Regions from separate parts of the Homo sapiens genome. Here region 2 is reported to be linked to region 1. The links are microRNA targets in miRTarBase. Many come from high-throughput screens and were not tested one by one. Region 1 holds a microRNA gene; the other region holds the end of a gene's coding sequence.
What was found. The annotated mature microRNA hsa-miR-5007-5p reads UAGAGUCUGGCUGAUAUGGUUU and lies in region 1 at 3,756-3,777, shown strand. An mRNA with a match to its seed (bases 2 to 7 or 8) in the 3' UTR can be bound and repressed. Matches are read on the target gene's strand: a 7mer-m8 pairs with bases 2 to 8, a 7mer-A1 pairs with bases 2 to 7 and ends in A, and an 8mer does both.

Region 2: miRTarBase lists RND2 as a target of hsa-miR-5007-5p. Seed matches in the 3' UTR shown: 7mer-m8 at 2,206-2,212.

What each region holds. Positions count from the first base shown.
Region 1 is chr13:55,170,719-55,176,103 of GRCh38, forward strand. It overlaps MIR5007 (microRNA 5007), which reads left to right and starts at 3,736; the gene lies at 3,736-3,830. All of the region lies in intron 4 of LINC02335 (long intergenic non-protein coding RNA 2335), which reads left to right.
Region 2 is chr17:43,027,687-43,033,071 of GRCh38, forward strand. RND2 (Rho family GTPase 2) reads left to right here. Exons shown (of 5, transcript NM_005440.5): 4 at 375-509; 5 at 746-4,355. The coding sequence ends at 994. Among named protein-coding and RNA genes, the nearest start is that of RND2, 5.1 kb to the left of the region's middle.

The DNA.
Region 1 (5,385 bases):
GATGATTTCTGAAAGAACTTAAAGCAGAATTACCATTTGATCCAGCAATCCCATGATTGGGTATATACCCAAAGGAATATAAATTATTCTACCAGAAGGAAACATGGATGTGAATGTTCATCAGAGCACTATTCACAATTGCAAAGACATGGAATCAACCTAAATGCCCATCGGTGGTAGAATGGATAAGGAAAATAGGATACATATACCACGGAATACTATGCAGACATGAAAAGGAACAAGACCATGTCCTTTGCAGCAACGTGGATAAAGCTGGAGGCCATTAACTTAAGTGAACTAATGCAAGAACAGAAAACCAAATACCACGTGTCTCTCTTATATAGCAGGAATATGCATTGAGTGCACAGGGACACAAAGAAGAGAACAATAGACATCAGAGCCTACTTGAGAGTAGAGGGTTGGAGGAGGGTGATGATTGAAAAATTACCTATTAAGTACTGTACTTATTACCAGGATGATGAAATACATCATTGAACACTTGATAAACTCCTACTGATATGGCTAATGCTTTTCTTCTCCATACTGTAAAGATCCTCAGAAGTCAGTTGCTTTTACCTAGCTGTGCTAACAGTAAACCTTCAGAGCCTTGTTTCAGGGTTGTATCATTTTTTTTTCTTCTAGATATGATCTGATTTGCAGAGAGTTTGATCATCATGACATTCCACAAAGCCCCAGTCTTGTCCACTACATTGATGACATTGAGTTTATTGAATCTGATGTGTAAGAGGTAGCAATTACTATGACATAGTTTCGTAAGGTAAATTCTAGCCAGAATCTGGGCAGTAATTCCACAAAAATGCATGGATCCACCTCTTCATTAAAGTTTCGTGGTTTCAAATGTCTGGAATATGTCTATACTTGCCTCGAAGGTAGCAAATATATTTTTTCATTTTGCACTGTCACAAAAAAAATGTAAAAGCTCAATGCATGGCAGGGTTTTCAAGATTTTGGAGACAACATACCACAGTTGAGAGTGCTTCTTCAGCATATTTACCAAATCATATATTAAGGCTGCCTATATCTTTGAGAGCTATATAGTAAGAGGTGACTTTTCAATAAATACAGGCCAAAGTACAAGATGCTCTTCTCCATGGCCTAATGATTCAGTAAATCCATTGATATTCAAAGTATCTGTGGTAAATAGAGATGCTTTATAGGCCATTCTGATAGACACTAATAGAAGAACCACAAGGACAACTTCTAGGATTTTGGAGTAAATCAATGTTCTCTTCTGAAAGTAAATTTCCTACTTCTTGAGAATTAGCTTCTGACTTACTATTAGCCCTTAGAAGAGAACAAACTGAAGATGACATCAGGTGACCATACAGTCTGCATTTTCCAAGTCAAACGCATCTATTAATAAAGTTGGATATGTGCAGCACCAATCTATCATTGAGTAAAAATGATATGTAAGAAAATGAGTTTGGGCAGGGCTAGGGGATAGAGTGTCTTTTGACACTGCTTCTTTCTGCATTGCTTCCCTTCCAACCATTCACACCTACGGCTTTATGGGAGTTTCATTCAACTAGTTGACTAGAAATAAAACACTTCAGTCTGTTTTACAGTTTGTTCTTCAGGATATGCTGGTATTGCCAATGCAGTTTCTATTTCCTTAATAGTTATTAATTGATACTTATTCTTAAGGAACAGATTATATAAGCAACCTTGATTCCGTAATTTTCTAACATACTATTCTTGGTTTTATTTCTGTCATATAAACTATGTATTTTTCCAACAGCTTAAAGCCAAGTTTATCTTTTAATTTCTCTATAAGTTTCAATCACATTAATCCAATTGTCAACATTGTATCAGTTAATTCTTTTAGGTTATTATTTTTATAAGGTCTTCCACAAATTTAAAAGCATGAATATTTTGCTTTTTTTAAAAAAAATAAACTTAAATTATTCTGTTTTTGACTTATTGTAATGCCTGAGTATAGTATTGAGAAAAATATTACTTACTTTTTCTTTAATTTATTTGGAATCATTCCAATATTTTATTATAAACATTAGATTTCTACTGCTTATCCTTTGCATGCAAACATACAAAGTCTAGGGGATTTTTTAGCCACTTTTTGCCACTTAACAACAACAAAAACAAAACAAAGAAATCTTAGTGCTTTTCTTTTTTTCATACAATTGTATATAGCTACAATTTTTTAATGTTCTACCACTTAGTAGGTTAAAATAAATTTATAGAAAAATAAATGGGAGATCAAATATTCATACTTTAACATAAGAACTATCAAGATACTAGAAGGCAAGAGTGATCTTATACATAAATAAGAGTTATATTCCACAAATCATAAAGGAAATATTGATATATTTAACAACATTTTAAAGGGGCTACACTTACATCATAAACAAAGTAAATGAAGAAATAAATAATGGGGAAATGGGATTTTTAACTTATAAGACAACTTTGTGATTAATTTTATATTCTAAATGTATAAAAATGCCATACAAATCAATACCAATGGAGTAAAGAAGCTTAAAATATAATAAAGTCAGACCTAAAAAACTATACAAATTGCTTATAAAGATGTAATAATATTTAGAATCACTTGTCAGATACATATGAAGTAAAATATGCAATTTTACACTGAGATTGGATTGGAAAATCTCTATTTTTTGTATTATATAGTTTTGTAAGCTATTGCATGGGAAATAAGATTTCTCATTTAACTAGATAATATAAATTAGAGGAGAACTTTGCAATCATTATTTGTTTTAAATATTACATGTTCTTGCAGATAATAAATAATCACTTAGGAATTTTGCCTACAATTTTGCATCTCAATAGAAAGCTATAAGAACACAGATATTCTTGATGCATTATTGGTAAAAGCAGAAGAGTGGTGGAAAACAATTGTATACCCACATTTAATGCAAACATAATAAATTTATGACTTATCTCATTATGTTATTTCCCAATTGGATTTTTTCATAAGTTTCTTCTGATAAACACAAAGGATACCAGGAATTGACTCTATATTACTGCTGTCCAATAGATCGTTCAATAAGGAAGAAAATCTTGTTTATTTGTGCTTTCCAATATGGTAGCCACAAGCCACATGAAGCTATTGAGTACTTAAAATTGACTATTTCTACTGAGATATAATTTTTTGTTTTAGAGATGGGGGTCTCAAATTCTTGCCTCAATCTCCTGAGTTGCTGAGACTCAGGATTCCTTCATGCCAGCTCAGGAATTAAATTTACCTATTAATCAATATAAAGTAAAAGTGGATAACCACATCGGGCTCAAGAATATCTTATTGGGCAGTGCAGTTTGAGGTAAATGTTGCTTCTTTAGCCAGTGTATTAGTTCATTCTCACATTGCTATAAAAAAATGCCTGAGACTGGGTAATTTATTAAAAAAAAGAGATTTAATTGGCTTATGGTTGTGAAGGTTGTATGTAGGAAGTATGACAGCATCTGCTTGGTTTCTAGGGAGTCCTTAGGAAATTTACAACCATGGTGGGTGGCAAACAAGGAGTCAGCACTTCACATGGCTGAAGCAGAAGGAAGAGAGAGAGGGGAGTGGTGCCACACACTTTTAAAACAACCAGACTTTGTGATAACTGACTCACTATCAGAGAACGGCACTGAGGCAGTGGTGCCTAACCATTTTTGAGAACTCTACCCTCATGATCCAGTCACTTCCCAATGGACACCCCTCTCTAAGACTGGGGATTACAATTTGACATGAGATTTGGTAAACCTTGGTGACTAATTAGAGTCTGGCTGATATGGTTTGACACAGAGCTAAATCATATGAACCAAACTCTAATTAGTCAATAATTTCTGTTAAAAATTATCCCTCAAATATCTTCCAAATCAGCCTTCTCTTTCTTATACTGATGAATGCTTCTTTTAATTAAATTTTTATTTTTTTCACCTGTATTACTGTACCATCTTTCTAAATGAACTCTTGTCATTTAAAACCAACCCTAAATTCATCTCCTGAGATGTCTGTAAAATGTAGATCTTCGTCACTTCTATATTTGCAAACTTTCAGCTCCCCCAAGTTGTTAATATTTTGGCCCCAGATTCTCCCTTTAGCCTCACATGGCTGCCAAATCTTCAAAACTCATTTACCTTCCAGACATAAAGCTTCTTCTAAAATTCTCTTTATAAAACATCATGCATTTTCATGTTTCCAAAGTTTTGCACATTTGTATTCATCTTTCTGGAATGCTTTCCTCAATGTTTTCACTTTTGTTTCTTCATTTATTCTTCAAAGACTAAGCTCACTTGTAACCTGCTGATAATTAACTATCCCCAGTTCTACAAGCATATTTGTTAGGGATGTCTCTTCACTGTTTATATAATATCCAGTCTTACTACCCCAGTGATAACTAATGATTCGACGAATAAATATGGTCAAAACTAAAAGCTCAGTAGCCAAGAACTAACAACGTAGAATAAATATTCTTCAATGTAAAAGGCAGAGTAGGAGAGAATCCCTGAAAATGGCAAGAATTGCTAGACATTAAATAAGACAGTAAATTTGATGGTTTGAGTTATTTTTTTCTTGTGATCGTCTTATTTTCACAGCCTATCAACATTTCTTCTTAGAAAAAAAGTAATGTTAGGATAAAAAATTTTAAGTAGGAGTGATTATAGCTATTGGGGACATAATTAATGAGATACCCCTCTTCTACTAGTCTATCTTTGAGTCATGCCTTTCTACTTATAATAGTAAGCTGACATCAGCTATAATAGGGAAATTATCTTCTCTCCTGGTTCCGCTAGTGTCTGTAGAAAAGATGCAAAATTTCACCTACTATAGACATATCCCAAAGACATACCCAATGCCGCCTACATGTTTCTCTAAAAACCCATCTTTTACTCATTGTCACTACATTTCCAGTCCACCTACCAAGTCTGCATTAACTAATTAAACAAACAAGCACTGTTTGAGAGTCTACAGAATTACAAGAAACCTAAGCATTCACAATGTTTCTAGTTCATCAGGAAGCTCAGATTTTGATCTATCTTTGGTTGTTAATTTTTCTGTCACTCCAATCATATTATTTGTTCTGTTGTAGTGCATCTATTGCAGGTCCCATTGAAACTCAAGTATGGCTTATCACACTGATCTTCAAACCCAATGCATATATCAGTAATCATACAAATAATAATAATGTTGACACATTACATTTATTACATATTTACTATGTGTAATTTACTATTCTGAGCACTCCTTTACGTTATGTGGTTTGGAGATTTATAGTACTCACTAGTAACTTACTCAAGGGATATTGAAAGAGTCATACTGAGTAAATGCTATTAAGTATTCTATGATACCAGAAACAACCTTAGTATTGCAACCTTTCAAATATAAACATATGTGAGTCAATC
Region 2 (5,385 bases), not on the chromosome of region 1:
GACAGAAGTCAGCTAGGGCAGCCCCAGTTCCCAGGTGGGGGAGGGGAGGGTGGGATAAATTTGTTCCCAGGAGAGAGTATGGGAAAGGCGAGTGGGAATGGGAAGTTTCCAGGCTGGCAGACCCTTCATAGCCACTGAGGGAGAAGAGTCCACAGGCCCACGCCAGCCCTCTCCTCCCCGCTGCTTCTCTCTCACCCCATCCTGCTCTCAAACCAAGCCTAGCATTCTCACCTCCTTCCTCATGTGGGAGAGTCCTGAGGGATACATGGTTTCTGCGTGCTTGAGGAAGAGAGGGCACACTGCTGGCATGGCACAAAGGCTCACGCTGTGCCTCCCTCCACCCCTCCACAATTCTCTTTTCTTCTCCTACATAGTGGCAAGGAGAGACTCAAGAGTTCTGCCCCAATGCCAAGGTTGTGCTGGTTGGCTGTAAACTGGACATGCGGACTGACCTGGCCACACTGAGGGAGCTGTCCAAGCAGAGGCTTATCCCTGTTACACATGAGCAGGTGGGACCCTTGACGTCTGACCTCATCCCAGCCTAGACCTGTCACCTCTGCCCCTTCAGTCTCTGATTTGAAAACACCTTACCTGGCTCATCCTTTGTTCTGGTCTGTGACCTCTGACCTGATCCCTTGACTGCCCCCAGCCTTGACATTCAACCCCAGCCCACAGCCTCCATGCCCCTTTCTAAGCTGCAGGCTAAGACCTATAACTTTCTCCCATGCACTCCTTCCTTTTCCAGGGCACTGTGCTGGCCAAGCAGGTGGGGGCTGTGTCCTATGTTGAGTGCTCCTCCCGGTCCTCTGAGCGCAGCGTCAGGGATGTCTTCCATGTGGCTACAGTGGCCTCCCTTGGCCGTGGCCATAGGCAGCTGCGCCGAACTGACTCACGCCGGGGAATGCAGCGATCCGCTCAGCTGTCAGGACGGCCAGACCGGGGGAATGAGGGCGAGATACACAAGGATCGAGCCAAAAGCTGCAACCTCATGTGAGGGGCTAGGAGAGGGCAGAGTGTGAAGAGGGGTGGTGAGGGACACAATTGTTCCCCTGCCTGCGCCCAGGCTTCCTGACCTCCTGATCCTGGCTGGGAAGTTAGGGCAGGCAGAGCGAGCAATTCTGGGCAGGGGAGCTGGAGGGCAGAAGGGTATCATCGTTTCTCATCTCCTCCTCCCTCCTCTTCTCCAGTGGATGTTGAGGGAGCTAACAGGGCTGGCATCTGGGGCATGAACTGGGATGGGGCAGGTGGGCGTTAGGGAAGCTGGTATCAAATGGTGACCTTGGTGGAGTCTCCTATGTGAAGAGTACCCTCCCTCTCCACCCCCAGTCCCCATATCCTGGTTCTGGCCCAAGGAAAATGTCCATTCTATGACCTTCTCTTTTCCTCTCCTCTCACTTCTGCAGCTATTCTCACACATCTAACCTCTAGGCAACATGCACTAAATTCAAAAGCAAGGAGAAGCCCTTGCCCCCCATCAGTCCACCAGCCCTAGAACCTCCCTTGCCTCAACAGTCACCTAATAAAGCCCACCTCCATGGAAAACGGCTGTGGCTTTAGTTTTGTTGCTTTTTAAAAAAATCAATCTACCAATCTTTAGCAGTAAGAGGGAAAGTTAGACCTCAGCTGGGGAACTTTCCTGTCCATGTCCACAGATAGAGCAGAGGACAAAGCCATAGGTTGGATCAGAAGTGTCCTTTTAGGAGTCAGAGTTGGGAGAAGGAGACATCCTGGGACTGTTCATCCTAGTTAATGAAGTGGGCAATTCTCAGGCCATTAGGGGGTTTTAGAGCAGACCGACATATAATTAGTCAGCATTTCTCAGCCCAGCCAGGCCTGCTGCTAGTGTGGGAGGGGTCCTGCTCACCATCTGTACCCCTGGCTTGGAGCCTGCTGGTACCCTGGGGGTTGTGGGGATAAGGAGGCATCAGGCCGGGCGCGCTGGCTCACGCCTGTAATCCCAGCACTTTGGGAGGCCGAGGTGGGCGGATCACAAGTTCAGGAGATCGAGACCATCCTGGCTAACACGGTGAAACCCCATCTCTACTAAAAATACAAAAAATTAGCCAGGCGCGGTGGCAGTGCCTGTAGTCCCAGCTGCTCGGGAGGCTGAGGCAGGAGAATGGTGTGAACCCGGGTGAACCTGGGAGGCGGAGCTTGCAGTGAGCCGAGATTGCGCCACTGCATTCTAGCCTGGATGACAGAGCAAGACTCTGTCTCCAAAAAAAAAAAAAAAAAAAAAAAAGAAGGCATCAAAAGCCTCCACATCACAGAAGCTACCCCTGTACAGCGTGAAGTTTCCTAAGAGGTCAGTAGTTTGATTCTGGGGTCTCCTTAGAGGCTCAGGCCAGGGACCTTTCTCTCCTCCCATGCTGAGTTTCATGATGGCTTTCAGGGGAGCATCAGCTGTTAGAGTCACCCCTACCCTGTCCCTTAAAGGAAAGACGGTGGAGAGGACGGCTGAGCGCCTGTTGTCAGGAAAGACAGTACTGGTCTGTTTTCTCGGGAGTCTGGTTTCAGATTGTCCTGTATTCCCTTCCTGGCTCTGGTCCCACTGGCCTCTTTTCGGTGACATTCTCCCCCAGGAACCATCCCTGGCCCTTCCCTCCCCCAGCCCTAGCCAGTTCTCCCAGACACACTGGAAGAGAACACTGACCTTACCCAACTATCTGCTGGGATCCCACCCAAATTTATAGCCCATTCCTCCCTCATTCATTCATTCAGCAAGTATGTACTGAACACCAACTGTGTGGCATACACTGGCTTGGGAGATTGCAAGGACCAGTCTCTAAGCTTTTGGAGGCCAGCCCAGTGTGGAAGAGAGGTACCTCAGGTGTGAGGGTGCCATGGCTGAGGGATATTTGTACATGTATGGGATGCTATGGGAGCTCCTTGCAGCCTGAGAAGCCAGTCCTGTGAGCCAGGTCCTGAGGGTTGAAGAGGAGTTTTCCGGGCAGGGAAGGGGTAGGAAAGGCACTCTGGGCAGAGGGTACAGCATGTGTAAACACGTGGAGATGAGAATGAGCATAGCACTGTTGGGGCTCCCATGGCAGGGAGAATAGAAGACAAGGCTAGGAAGGTACACTGAGGCTACTGCAGGGTCCACAGAGGAATCAGAATTTCATTCTGAGGATGAATGAAATCATCCTCAGAGGATGAAGCCACCAGGAATTTCAGGCAGAGAGTGAAGTGATCAGAGTTGTTTTTTGGATAGATGGTTATCTGGATGTGGTGTTGGAGCTGGGAGATTTGGCTCTGAGGTGTGTCATTTAAAATAATAGCTTCTCGGCAGTGGCTCACACCTATAATCCCAGCCAAGATTCCTCCTTTGGGAGGCCAAGCTGGGAGGATCGCTTGAGGCCAGGAGTTAGAGACTGCAGTGAGCTATGATCATGCCATTGTCTTCCAGCCTGAGTGTCAGAGTGAGACCCTGTCTCTAAAAAAAATTAAAAAATAAAAAATAAAAAATAGCTTCTCCTTTCCCTTATGCCAGGTTCCAGTCTTGAGAGGAAAGGAATCCCTACCCACCACTCCCTGGATCATCAGATATCCCTATCCCAACCTCTCCTATGGGACTAGTTCATCTCAGCCAGTCTCAAAGATTCTAGGATAACTTCAATGGCATTTGAAATTATCTAAGTGTGCTTGGATAACCACCCCCTCAAACTGAGACCTGGTTAGGGACTGACTCAAAGACCCTGAGTCCTCGGCTAAGGGTACAGGAGAGGGCAGGGGCTCCAGGCCCAGCTAGGTGGATCTCCATCTGTCTCTGAGGACTGACCCTTTCCCCACAAGGACCTGCCATAAAAATCGACTTGCGATTTTTAGCTGAGTGGCTTCTCTTTTCCACTTTGGACTTCTCAGTGTATAGCAGGTTCAAGCCTGCAACCACCAAAGTGCAGAGTGTGGAGTGTTTGTGCCCCCTCTTTCCTCCAACCTCCATATCCTGCCATGTGAGCTCAGGGAATGCAAATGCATTTAAATATCCATCTAAAGCAAACATAATTAGAAAAATCAATCAGCTGGAGGACCCCCCAAAGTTTAATACATTTTCAATACCACCAGGAATGGATTTTTGGTCCCTTTCTGCAGGTCTGGGTTGCCAGACGTTTTATTTCTGGGGAGGAGGGCTCTGGGCTGAGGAGCTCAGTGGGTGGGAGGAGGGAATGGGACTGTTGCTGATCCTCAAAGGCCTCTGTAGGATGGAGGGAGGGGACCTTACTCCCTTCCCCACCCCAGATGCAGGAGTCACCCAGCTTCCTTCTCTGCGCTGTTTCCTTCACAAATTAGACATTGGTTTGGGAAACAATGTAGCCTCGTTAAACATTTAATGAAATAAACAAATAATCACACTGTGATGGCTGCCAGAGTTTCTGTGTTTTTTTTTTTTTTTTTTTTTTTTTTTTGAGACGGAGTTTCACTCTGTCATTCAGGCTGGAGTGCAGTGGCACCATCTCGGCTCACTGCAACCTCTGCCTCCTGGGTTCAAGCGATTCTCCTGCCTCAGTCTCCTGAGTAGCTGGGACTACAGGCGCGCGCCACCATGCACAGCTAATTTTAGTGTTTTTTTTTTTTTTGAGACGGAGTTTCACTCTTATTGCCCAGGCTGGAGTGCACTGGCGCGATCTCGGCTCACGGCAACCTCACCTCCTGGGTTCAAGTGATTCTCCTGCCTCAGCTTCCTGAAGTAGCTGGGATTACAGCCATGTGCCACCATGCCCAGCTAATTTTGTATTTTTAGTAGAGATGGGGTTTCTCCATGTTGGTCAGGCTAGTCTTGAACTCCCGACCTAACGTGATCCACCCACCTCGGCCTCCCAAAGTGCTGGGATTACAGGCATGAGCCACCGTGCCCAGCCATTTTTGTATTTTTAGTAGAGACAGGGTTTCACCATGTTGGCCAGGATGGTCTCCATCTCTTGACCTCATGATCCGCCTGCTTCAGTCTCCCAAAGTGCTGGGATTACAGGCGTGAGCCACCATGCCTGACCTAATTTTTGTATTTTTAGTAGAGATGGGGTTTCACCATGTTGGCCAGGCTGGTCTCGAACTCCTGACCTCAGGTGATCCACCCACCTTGGCCTCCCAAAGTGTTGGGATTACAGGCAGGAGCCACCGCGCCCAGACTAGTGGTTTTTTTTTTGAGAGTCTCGCTTTCTTGCCCAGGCTGGAGTGCAGTGGCCCAATCTTGGCTCACTGCAAGCTCCACCTCACAGGTTCACGCCATTCTCCTGCCTCAGCCGCCCCAGTAACTGGGACCACAGGCACCCGCCACCACGCCTGGCTAATTTTTTTTTTTTTTTTTTTGAGACGGAGTCTCGCTCTGTCGCCCAGGCTGGAGTGCAGTGGCGCAATCTCGGCTCACTGCAAGCTCTGCCTCCTGGGTTC